2 separate regions of the Homo sapiens genome follow, and region 1 is linked to region 2. Evidence: fine-mapped expression QTL. Tissue or cell type: prefrontal cortex. Region 2 holds a variant in brackets; the other region holds the start of a gene. All regions are shown on one strand. Distances are from middle to middle.

Region 1 (5,387 bases), 52 kb after region 2:
GGGATTCTGGGCAGAATCACGGCCAAACGGTCTCCTCTCTGCAGGCCACAGGGCTTGGTGAGCACGTTGGCAGCTTTTCGGGACAAGGAGCCCAGTTCTCTGAAGCTCCATTTTACCTCATCCCCTTTGCCATTCACCCACCACAGGGCTGGGTTAGCTGGTCTCTCCCCTGTCTGACCAGGGACACATGGAAAAGAGAGGGGTAGGTTTACATGACTGATTACTCTTACATGCGGCATCTGCTGTTTTCCCCCTTTGGCACTGGTTCTGGTGCATTCTGCTAACAGCGCCCTGAGTTCGTCTTTGAGGGAACTGCCCCTCTCCTATTGAACACAGCCTTGAAAAGAGAATCCCTCAGGTTGCTTTTACCCTTCCCCGAGCAGTAGGTGGGCATTTGACCAAAGTTGGGCCAATCAGACCTTCTCTCTCTGGACTTTTTGGTTTTCTGAGAGAAATCAAAAGATAGAAAATGGTTGGTACAAAACTTGTCTATGGGTTATTCGTGCTTACGCATGCTCAGAGAGCTGTCCTGATTCCTGTCCTCATTGAGATGGACTCTCCAGCTTCCAGCCCAATTTTGTGAGCTCTCCCATATTCCTTGAATAAATTTCTTTCTTGCTTAAATTAGATTCTTTCCCATCCAAATAACCTGAATGGATCTGCTAAGTTTGACTGGGAAGCAGACATCTCTTTGTACCCTAAGGCTGAGGTGTGGTTTTCACAAGTCACAAGGAGCAGGGTCGAGGGAGGCATCAATTTATTGACTTCTAGAGGTAACTTCTTCCCCATCATTCTATAAAGTGAGTCATCTGTACTGCAAAACCTCTTTGCCTTATGTATTACCTGGAAAAAAATTACTCTCCCTTCTTTCCCCTATCTGGAATGCTTCTTTTATCTTCTCTGGCTGGCAAATACTTTAAAGCCCTGTTGACATGTCAGTTCGTCTGTGAGCTTTTCTTAGACTTCTCTTTGTTTCTCCACTAACTTCTCTGTGTTCCTTCATCGTTGTGCTCATACTCCAGATGACTCCAATTTATTATATGACAGATGTGTCTCTTCCCTGTGGATGTAACCTCTGTAAAGATCAGGGACTGGGTTTATGTTCTGTTGGACCTGTGTGGCCTTGGATAAGTAGCTTAGCTTCTATGAGGTCAAGTTCCTCATCTGCAAACCTCCCAGGTTGTTATGGGGATTTGGTGAAATAATATAGGTCAGTATTTCTCAATCTTTAGTCATTTAAGTCTCATTGTTTCTGTCAGCTCTGCCTGCACCTGCACTATTCTTCTTTATTTTGTATACTTCGCTACATGGACTCACTTTTTACTTTTTACGTGTATACATTTACTTAAGAAGGAATATATATTTAATCAGCACCATTATTGGACAATTATTACCACTTGCCAAAAAATAGGTTATTGAAAAATAAATATGCTGAAAACAAAACTATGCCATTAAATTTTATCTAGAGATGATTAGCTTCTACCTGTGGTCTTTATTCAAGAGAGTGTTTAGCAAATGATAGGTGCTAAAGACACAATGGCTTTCAAGGAAGGCTTTCCCCCTGTATTTAACAGGAAGAATTGATTCAATGTTATTTAATACCTTGTCTGTCTAGTACCTAACATCATGTTCCCATCCATGGTCCTGCAGTGCATTTTGATAAGCACTGCTTGGTTAAGTGTTTAGCTCAGTGCCTGGCATGGGGTGAGGATCAGTACACAGAGACCTCATCCTGAGGCTGCACTGTAAACATTGCATAAGGGCCGCTTGCTTTATTCTTGTCAACCTCCAATTCTCTCCTCATTACTCCAATGATAACTGTATTCATAAAATCAAAACTCAATTTGCTACTTTTTCGATAAGCCTGTGACCAACTTGAAAACAAAGCACTGTTGCATGGGGCTTGGAGAAAAGAGAAGGAAAAGAGGCAGAACTCTGTGAGGAACGACCATGGGGATGGGAGATAGAGAAGGCTCCAGAGCCGCCCAGCCATTTGTGGCTGAGGATCTAAGATCTTCCCTGGGGAGAGGGGAGGGCAATTGGAAAACAAACAAAGGAAACCAAGAGGGTGAGAGAGTGCATTGGAATTAAGTGGTAGACCACAGAACAAGGAAATGGAAGACTGAGAGATAAGGGGACACCAAGCATCTACTGGAAGCCCATCGTCATATACCTTCTCCTTTTGGGACCACTGGTCCAGCACATCTGCAGCAAAGTTAAAGTTTTTAGGCAATGGCCTGTTACAGCGATTTATGGCTTCAAAGTCAGCAAGAGTCAGAGGCGTCCAAAGCTGGTGATCTTTGTGTAAGCGCCGGCCAGGTGGCTTGGTGAGCCAGATGAATCTAAATGTCTGGTAGCGGAAAAAAATCTTCATGGTTCCCAAAGGACTTTGTCTACTGCTATGGACACAGAAGTACTACAGCCTGTAGGGAGAGATGGATAGAGAGTATCAGTTTCTTGATGCTCTGTGGTGAGACTGGGAGGTGGATTTGTGGCTGTGTGTCCCTGGCAAGTTGGGGAACACCTGAAAAACACCTCATCCTTCCTCAGAGCTGCTGCCTTAGCCACTGACTGGTCTCCCTGCCACTGGACCCTTCCTCTTCATTCTGTCTGTGACCAGATGAGTCTAAAAAAACCCCTTAACTACAGAATTGTCAGACTCCTGTCTTCTGTTCCTGTCTTCTCCCCAACCAAACAACAGACAAATAGAAACTTCGCTGTCTGGACTGGCATTCAGAGCCTCCTTTCGCCTGCTTTATACACTGTTCTGTGTCTGCTAACTCCTCTACTTGAATTTCCTCTTCCAGTAAAGGAGGCCCGTTAACTTGCCATGAATGCCCCACTAAGAGTTGGCCTGTCATTTCCCTGGCTCCTGCTTACCCTGTTCTCCTCTCCCCTTCAACTTCCCATTGTGATTGCTTGGAAACCTGGGTTTAAGTCCTGGTTCAGCCACTTTCCGGCTGTAGGACTTTGGACAAGTTACTTATCTTCCTGCACCTCAATTTTCTCATCTGTAAAATAGGGGAAAATATAGTACCTCCCTCCTACAGTTATTGTGAGGATTTAATAAGATAATGTGTATAAAATGCCTAGCTCGTAAAAGGTGACTTCAAAGTGTTAATTACTACTGTTGTTTTTTTGTTTTTCTGTTTGTTTGTTGTTTATTAAGAAACAAGGTCTTGCTCTTTCACCCAGGTTGGCGCAATCACAGCTTACTGAAGCCTCAAACTCCTAGGCTTAAGCAATCCCCCTGACTAAGCATCCTGAGCATCTAGGACTACAGGGGCCACACCACCATGCCTTGCTAATTTTTTTTTTTTTTTTTTTGTAGAGATATGGCCTCACTATGTCACCCAGGCTGGCTTGCCTCCAACTCCTAGCCTCAAGTAATCTTCCTGCCTTGGCCTCCCAAAGTGCTGGGATTGTAGGTATGAGCCACTGCACCCAGGCAACCACTGCTGTTGTTAAGATTATTTTCCTTAATATTATTGTGGCATAGTTTTATTTTAAAAAATCCTACCATATGAACCAGAAGACTTGGATTTTATTTCTTTTTCAAAAACTGCTTTTAATATTGGTAAAATTGCCTGCTCTTTCTGGACTACCATCTGTAATCTAATTAATTTTTTAAATAATTTTGTGTTTATTTCTTCCCTGGGTTTTCCGTAACATGCATTTATGCTATTCATGTGACAGTTGTCTACTTTGTATTATCAATGATAGTTTTTCATATATGTGCCCTGTCTCCCTACCCAGCCGGTATGGGTTGAGGCTATGTAATGTGTTCTTAGCACTAAGCATGACTCACAGAAGATCTGCAATAATAAAAGGCAGTTTTTAGGTTCTTGATGTAGGCAGGCACTTTGCATTTCTGATGTCATTCAATATTCATGACAAGCTTGTGAGGTTGGTGCTATTATTATCTCTATCTTACAGATGAAGACACTGAGGTTTAAGTACACTTAAGGATCTTATCCAAGGTCATTCAGCTCGAGACAAACCATGTCTTGCCTCTGCCACCATGAGCTCAATGACGCAACCAGAGGCAAGGTTTGAACCTCTCTGGTCTGACTTCAGAACTTAACCTACTCAGCTTCTCTGCTATTTATTCTCCCTTGTGCTGCCTTCTTCGATAAAGGTTTCTTGTTGATGGTGAATGCCTTCACCCTTTTTGCCCTTCAGGCTTGTGTAGTTGTTTTGAATGGAGTGGAAGAATCTGCAAATGTAAAGAGTACCTGAGTCTGCAGCATGGTGATAACAAACAATAGAAAGGAGGGTGCAGGGTGTGCCATCCTTCATTGTTGTTGCCAAGTCCTCTGTGCTGCTCAGAGTGACTTCTGGATAAGTGGCAGGTCCATTTGGTGCAAACACAATTTGCTGTATTTCAAAAATAGCTATTGCTGGCAATACCGTTGGTGTTAAACTCTCTGTTATGCCAAGGTAAAAAAAGAAGAGGGATAGCGCCTTAACTGGGCAATTATCAAGAGTAAAGAAAAGGGAGAAAAGAGAAGCAGAGTGGACCACATTCATGGTTTAGCATTCTGCCAAAAGTGAGACTCTCATCCCTCTCCTAAAACACAGACGTGCACACACACATGCACACACACACACATACCACTTGCACCACACTTGCATCCAAACTTGCTTCTCTGGATGACCTTTGTCAAGTTGCTTAACATCTCCAAGTCTCATTTGCATCTGTGCAATGAGAGTAATAATACCTTCTTCACTAGGTAGTTGCAAGGTTTTAGTGAGTACGTTAGCACAGTGCATGGTTTGTGGCTAGGAATGAATAAATGCTGCATATTAAAAATAAAACCTCAGAAGCATTTGTGACAGAAGACTTCAGCTCTTGATATATAAAGAAACCTAGAAAAGCTGTTGGTTTGGAAGGCCAGATGTAGTGGCTCACACCTATAATCCCAGCATTTTGGGAGGCCGAGGTGGCCAGATCACTTGAGGTCAGGAGTTCGAGACCAGCCTGGCCAACATGGTGAAACCCCATTTCTACTAAAAGTACAAAAATTAGCTGGGCGTGGTGCTGCGTTCCTGTAATCCCAGCTACTCAGAAAGCTGAGGCAGGAGACTTCGCTTGAACGTGGGAGGCAGAGGTTGCAGTGAAACAAGATTGCACCAGTGCACCCCAGCCGGGGTGACAGAGTGAGACTCCGTCTCAAACAACAACAGCAAAGAAAAGCTATTGGATTGGAGCTGCTAAGTTATCTTGTTTCTGCCTCTTATAATGTCCTGTCACTGTGCTCCAAGCTCTTGGGGCTGACCTGAGCCTCCATCAGTCTGAAGCAGTTTAGCTTTCACTTCCATTATCTTGTCCTTTCTTGGTCTCAGTTTAATGATGAAGTGGAAAAACTTCCAAGATGGGGGAACCT
Region 2 (5,387 bases):
GAATGATTTTGCTCCAGTCTTCACTGTGATAACTTGGTAGGGCTTCTAAAGGTAAAACAAAAATGTAGGTCCACTGGAGTTTTTAACACTGAAACTTTTCCACTCTGAGCCTACAGCAATTTGTCAATTACAGTTTAGATTTCCCTACCCCATTACTGATTTCCACAGTGGTTTCTGCTCTATAAGTTGCAATTCTCTGTCTCTGCCTGTCTGTCTCTCCAATTTTGGTGGTAGTGGTTTGCCCTATGACATCAGTTCTTTGATGGACCTAAGAAGAGTTGTTGATTTTCAGTTTATTCACCTTTTTTCTTGTTATGCGATTGGGAGTAATGACTCCCAAGCTTCTTACAGGCTTCATGGGAAACTAGAAGTTCAAATAATTACTCTTAAAAGATGCAGTCATATTCAACCTTCTTGAAATTTAGTTATCTACATTTCTCTATCCACAGACAACAATTCTTTATTTCTCTCAATCCTGCCAAAAATGGAACAATTCCCTAAATATAATTTTTAGTACTCTCCTATCTTTAGACAATGATGCTTACCATTGAGTTTTACTTGTCCCATTTTTAAAATCAAAATATAAATATCACAATTCTAGGCTTTTAAGATACTGGAAGCAAATCTGATAATCTGATAAAAAGTTGTATTATTTGTTTTGGTAACACTTAATGGTTTATCCTTTTAAATATGATAATTATTTTACTTCAAAACGATAACTAAGCGTGCTCTTAATTTATGTAATAGTCACCTCTTGCTCTATTATACTTTCCCAGCTGATCAAACACTGCACTTAACAGCTCTTCCCTCTGCAGAGAGGTTTTCTACTATTCAATAATACAGATTTTGCCTTTCTTTCAGATGACACCCCCAACCATGGTTGTGAAGATGCTAGCGACACATCGCTGTTGGGAGTTCTTCCTGCCTCTGAAGCCACAAAATGACTTTAGACTTCCAGGGCTCACCAGGTAAGTTGAGAAGTATTGTTCCTACTAAAACTAGTAATTTAATCTCCCACTGTCGCAGAATTAAATACATTTTTTCCAATATTTATATTACCATATATTATGTCACTGGTTCATATCCCCAGTATTTCAAATATTCTATGTTAACCTCTGGAAAAGAGAGAGGTTGATGAGAAAGTTGTTCCTATAGAAAATTTACAGAGTTTATCAGAATTGGTTTTGAGCATTGGCTGATGCTGCAGATAGTCTGTCACTAAGGAAGAGGTTGATTACATCTCAGCTTCACATACTGCTCATTGATAACCTCCATTCCTAGGATTTCTGTTCATTTTTGTTACACAGAGTAGGATGTTCACATTTATTCTCTTAAGTACAGACTAGATTCCGTGCATTAATATCACTCCTTATTGCTTTAATCGCCAGTGCCTGACAGATGATACATGCTTTATATTTATTAAACGTAGGTGGCTTTGTCTGATGAGAAAACATTAACGTAATAGCAGTGAAATCATTCTCTAAAGGTTTAGAAAAACAAGCACTCGTTATATAATAATGTTGCATTGAGGCAGTTCTAAAACACTTACTGGTGCCAGGACAAATAACTAAAATCAAAGTCAACTAGAAAATCCAGCACAAAAGGAACAGTGCTTTCTCTCAGTTAGAGTGGATGGTCCAAATATGATGGAGAGAAAAATTGAACTCAATGAAGTCAAAGGACTAGAAAGCACTGTGCTTTCTAAATAATGTTGAAAACACTTTTTAATTCCTAGCATGAATGAGCTAGCAATTCTGAAAACAGCATTTCTGCGTAGCCCAAAGATAATTCTAAATTTTTTATGGGAATAAATGCCAGGGAGCAAAGATAAGTCATATCTCCTGATTTTTATTATGGAATATCTAGACATCACCAACACAAAACTATTTCAAATTTGACCCAGTGATCCAAGTGAATGGGCTTGAGTTTCTCCGTTTTTTCTCAAAAATATATTATTACCATAATAACAAAAAAAGTTAGAAAAACCAGAGGCAAAGTACACAAAAACCATTTAGATAATAACTAGCTCCAACATAATTTAATGGTAACTCTTCTAATACCAAGACTTATATTTATGATTGAAGCCTTTTTCCTCTTTATATGCTATTGATAATTTCTCTATTTGGAAAAGTTCATTGAAAAACTTAAATTAAAATGTATCCTAAAGTGTATCTTATGTGTTTTCATCTGCATGATATAAGGAACAAATGATTGAGTCTGTATTATTCTAAACCAATTTTAATAAATACTAATTTATATTAGCACAATTTTTGTTTGCCAATGAATACTATGTGTTGTTTTTAAAGTACTTGAAATTAGGGTTCTATATTAGAAAAGATTTTCCCTCAGCAGTTATTATTGTGCTTAGTGTATTAGTTTTCTAGGGCTGCCAAAAGAAAATACCACAGACTGGGCAGCTTAAACAATGGAAATTTGTTTTCTCACAATTCTGGATGCCAGAAGTCCATGATCAAGATATTGGGAGGTTTGATTTCTTCTGAGGCCTCCTTCCTTCCCTTGCAGGCAGTCATCTTCTTGTTATGCCCTCAGATGGTCATCCCTTGGTCTGTGTTGTCTGTGATCTAATTTCTTCTTGTAAGGACACCAGTCATACTGGATTAGGGCTCACCCATGTGACCTCATTTTACCTTAATTACCTCTTTGAAGGTCCAATCTTCAAATACAATCACATCCTGAGGAACTAGGGGTTAAGACTTGAACATATGAATTTGGGGGGACCCAATTCAGCTCATAACACTGAGCAAGTCTATTATTCTATGATACAAAAAAACCTACTTTTGTTCTGTCTAAACCTCATTAATCATCAATTCTGACTTAGCAGAATCCATACTAAAAACTTTTGAAAGATTAATTTCCAGAGGTGTTCCAAAAACCAAAACCATATGTAATCATACCTTCCTTTTTAATTTTGGTGTTATTTAACACTCTTTTTCTTTGATAAGTAAATTATTACATTCTGAGACTCAGAATTCTAGACTATGGGAGCAGAAAGAAAATTGCATAATATCTGCATATGCACAAAAAAGAAATATTAATACATAGCACCTACTAAATCTGTCCTAATTGATCAATTCTTTGTGGGTTGTGTGTGTGTTTGTGTGTGCACACACACACGTGTCTTAACTTTAACCTCATGTAGGCTAGCATTCTTATTTAGAAGAATAGTAACTTGTTGCCTCTTGTTTTATAATTTCAGATCAACCTCTAAATATCTTTGAAGGAGACAACAACTTTTAAATGAATAAAGAGGAAGTCAAGTTGCCCT[A/G]TGGAAAACTTGTCCAAATAACATTTCTTGAACAATAGGAGAACAGCTAAATTGATAAAGACTGGTGATAATAAAAATTGAATTATGTATATCACTGTTAAATGGACTGAATGTTTGTGTTTTCCTTTGCCCCTCGCAAAAAAAAATTTGTATGTTGAAATCCTAACTGCCAATGTAATGGTATTAGGAAGTGGAGTTTTGGGGAGGTAATCATGTCGTGAGGGTGAAGCCCTCATGAATGGGATTAGTGCCCGTAATAATGGAACCTCAGAGGCTCTGTCACTGTCCTTCCCTTATGTGAGTGTACAGTGGGAAGTCAGCAGTCTACAACTTGGCAGGGAGCCCTCATCAGATCTGAATCATGCTGGCACCCTGATCTCAGGTTTATAACTTCCCAAACTGTGAGGGAAAAAAATTCTGTTGTTTATATGCCACCCAGTTTATAGTATTCTCTTACAGCAGCCCAAACTCAGACAATCACTAACTGAAAAACCACTCCATACGTATCCTACTCCTACTTCTGCTGAACAATGAAAAACATTATTTGAGGCTGACTTATGGCTGTTCTTGTAGTTCAAATTAGTGTAATTCCATAGATATTTGAATGTAGAAAGCATTTTCAAAATTGAATGTCAGAATAGTTGTCTTCATTTTTATCCCTGATAGATTTATTCATGACAGCTTTGCTCAATTGCCCTTGCTTCTAACTTGGCTTCCTCAGATTTTGAACATATTGTTGTTCCTATAGGAATTATAACACATATAGTAACAAGTATCTACCACAATAGTAAAATAATTTTTTTAAAAATCAGTAGGCTTCATGGAGCTGTTACAAGAGATGTAAAACAAACAAAAAAAAGAAGCCTAGGTGATTAGAAAAGACATTTTTAAATCTTTAAGACCCTAAATAAGCTTTATTCATTTAGGGTCTCTGCTCTCAAAGAGTTGGAAATCCTAAAAATCAGGAGACTTTAGTTCACAAATCTGGTAAGAAAGGATAATTAGTCCCATGCCAAGAAAAGCTTGTTTTGAAGGCTTCTTCTCAAGAGTTAGCAAGATTTTAGATTGTACTTCAAATATTGGGGCCTCTCTTTGCAATATGTTTGCAGTATATATTATGAGGAAATGTAGTAGAGAGTTTAACGATTAAAATTTAATCCTAGCCAATTAATATATATTTCATTAATATTGCTGTACTGCAGTAAAATTATTACAGATACCTACACTAAAATAAAGAGCCATCCCTATTTCTATGTTTAGAAAGTTTAAGTTTTTATTATAACATAAATACATGTTAAAAAATATTGAAAGAACAATAATAAATATGAAAAAGTCTATCATTCTGAAATAAGCACTGTTAACATTTTGGAATGTTTCTGTCACTCTTTTGTCTGTCCTCTCTCTTGTGTATACATGCATGAAATTATTCACCTACATAAAATAAAGATTATTCATTCTTATTACATTATTTTTTAAACTTCCATTAAATGCAACATTAATCATATTGTTGTTTTCTTGTACGTGATGAATCATTTTTCTCTTACTGCTTCCAAGATTTTCTCCTTGTCCCTGTCTTTCAACAGCTTGATGGTATCTAGATAAGGATTTCTTTGTGTTTGTCTTCCTTAAGTTTCATTGGATTATTTGGATTTTCAAATTAATATGCAAATCTGAGACATTTTCAACTGTTATTTTTTTCAAATATTTTTCTACCTCTTTCTCTATTCTTCTGTGCCTCATGCTGATATACAAGCTCTGTTACTTTTTCTGCAGTATTTTTTTCCAAGTTCTTAAGACGGATCATTTATATTAAACTACAAATTTACCGATTTTTTTCTCTTCTGGAATTTTAAAGTTACTATTTAGCCTTTTTATAAACTTATCATTTCATTTATTTCATGTTACGACTCAAGAATTCCTATTGATTTCTTTTTACAGATTTTATTTCTTCTTCTTTGTTAAGCCATTGTCGTTAGATTTTTCTTTAATTCTTTAAATATGATTTTCTTTAGTTTTTCAAACTTATTTAAATAGCTGCTTTGAAGTCTTTCTCTATTCAGTCCAGTACCTGGACCTCCTCAGAGCTAGATTTCATTGATTG

Alleles and levels. Positions count from the first base shown, and alleles are read on the strand shown. Sizes are in standard deviations (SD) of each study's normalised expression.
For the expression in prefrontal cortex of the gene that starts at base 2,634 in region 1, allele G in region 2 goes with a lower level than allele A (moderate effect, 0.43 SD a copy in BrainSeq).

The links. PIP is the estimated chance that this variant, and not a neighbour inherited with it, causes the effect.
Region 1: it holds the start of ACSM4, and the variant in region 2 is the best candidate, but not a certain one, in a credible set for the expression of ACSM4 in prefrontal cortex (BrainSeq, PIP 0.66).

What each region holds. Positions count from the first base shown.
Region 1 is chr12:7,301,319-7,306,705 of GRCh38, reverse strand. ACSM4 (acyl-CoA synthetase medium chain family member 4) reads right to left here and starts at 2,634. Exons shown (of 13, transcript NM_001080454.2): 1 at 2,174-2,634; 2 at 1-173. The coding sequence starts at 2,374.
Region 2 is chr12:7,352,961-7,358,347 of GRCh38, reverse strand. CD163L1 (CD163 molecule like 1) reads left to right here. Exons shown (of 20, transcript NM_174941.6): 19 at 862-968; 20 at 3,218-3,388. The coding sequence ends at 944. Among named protein-coding and RNA genes, the nearest start is that of ACSM4, 52 kb to the right of the region's middle. The variant A/G (reference allele first, on the strand shown) is at 3,287.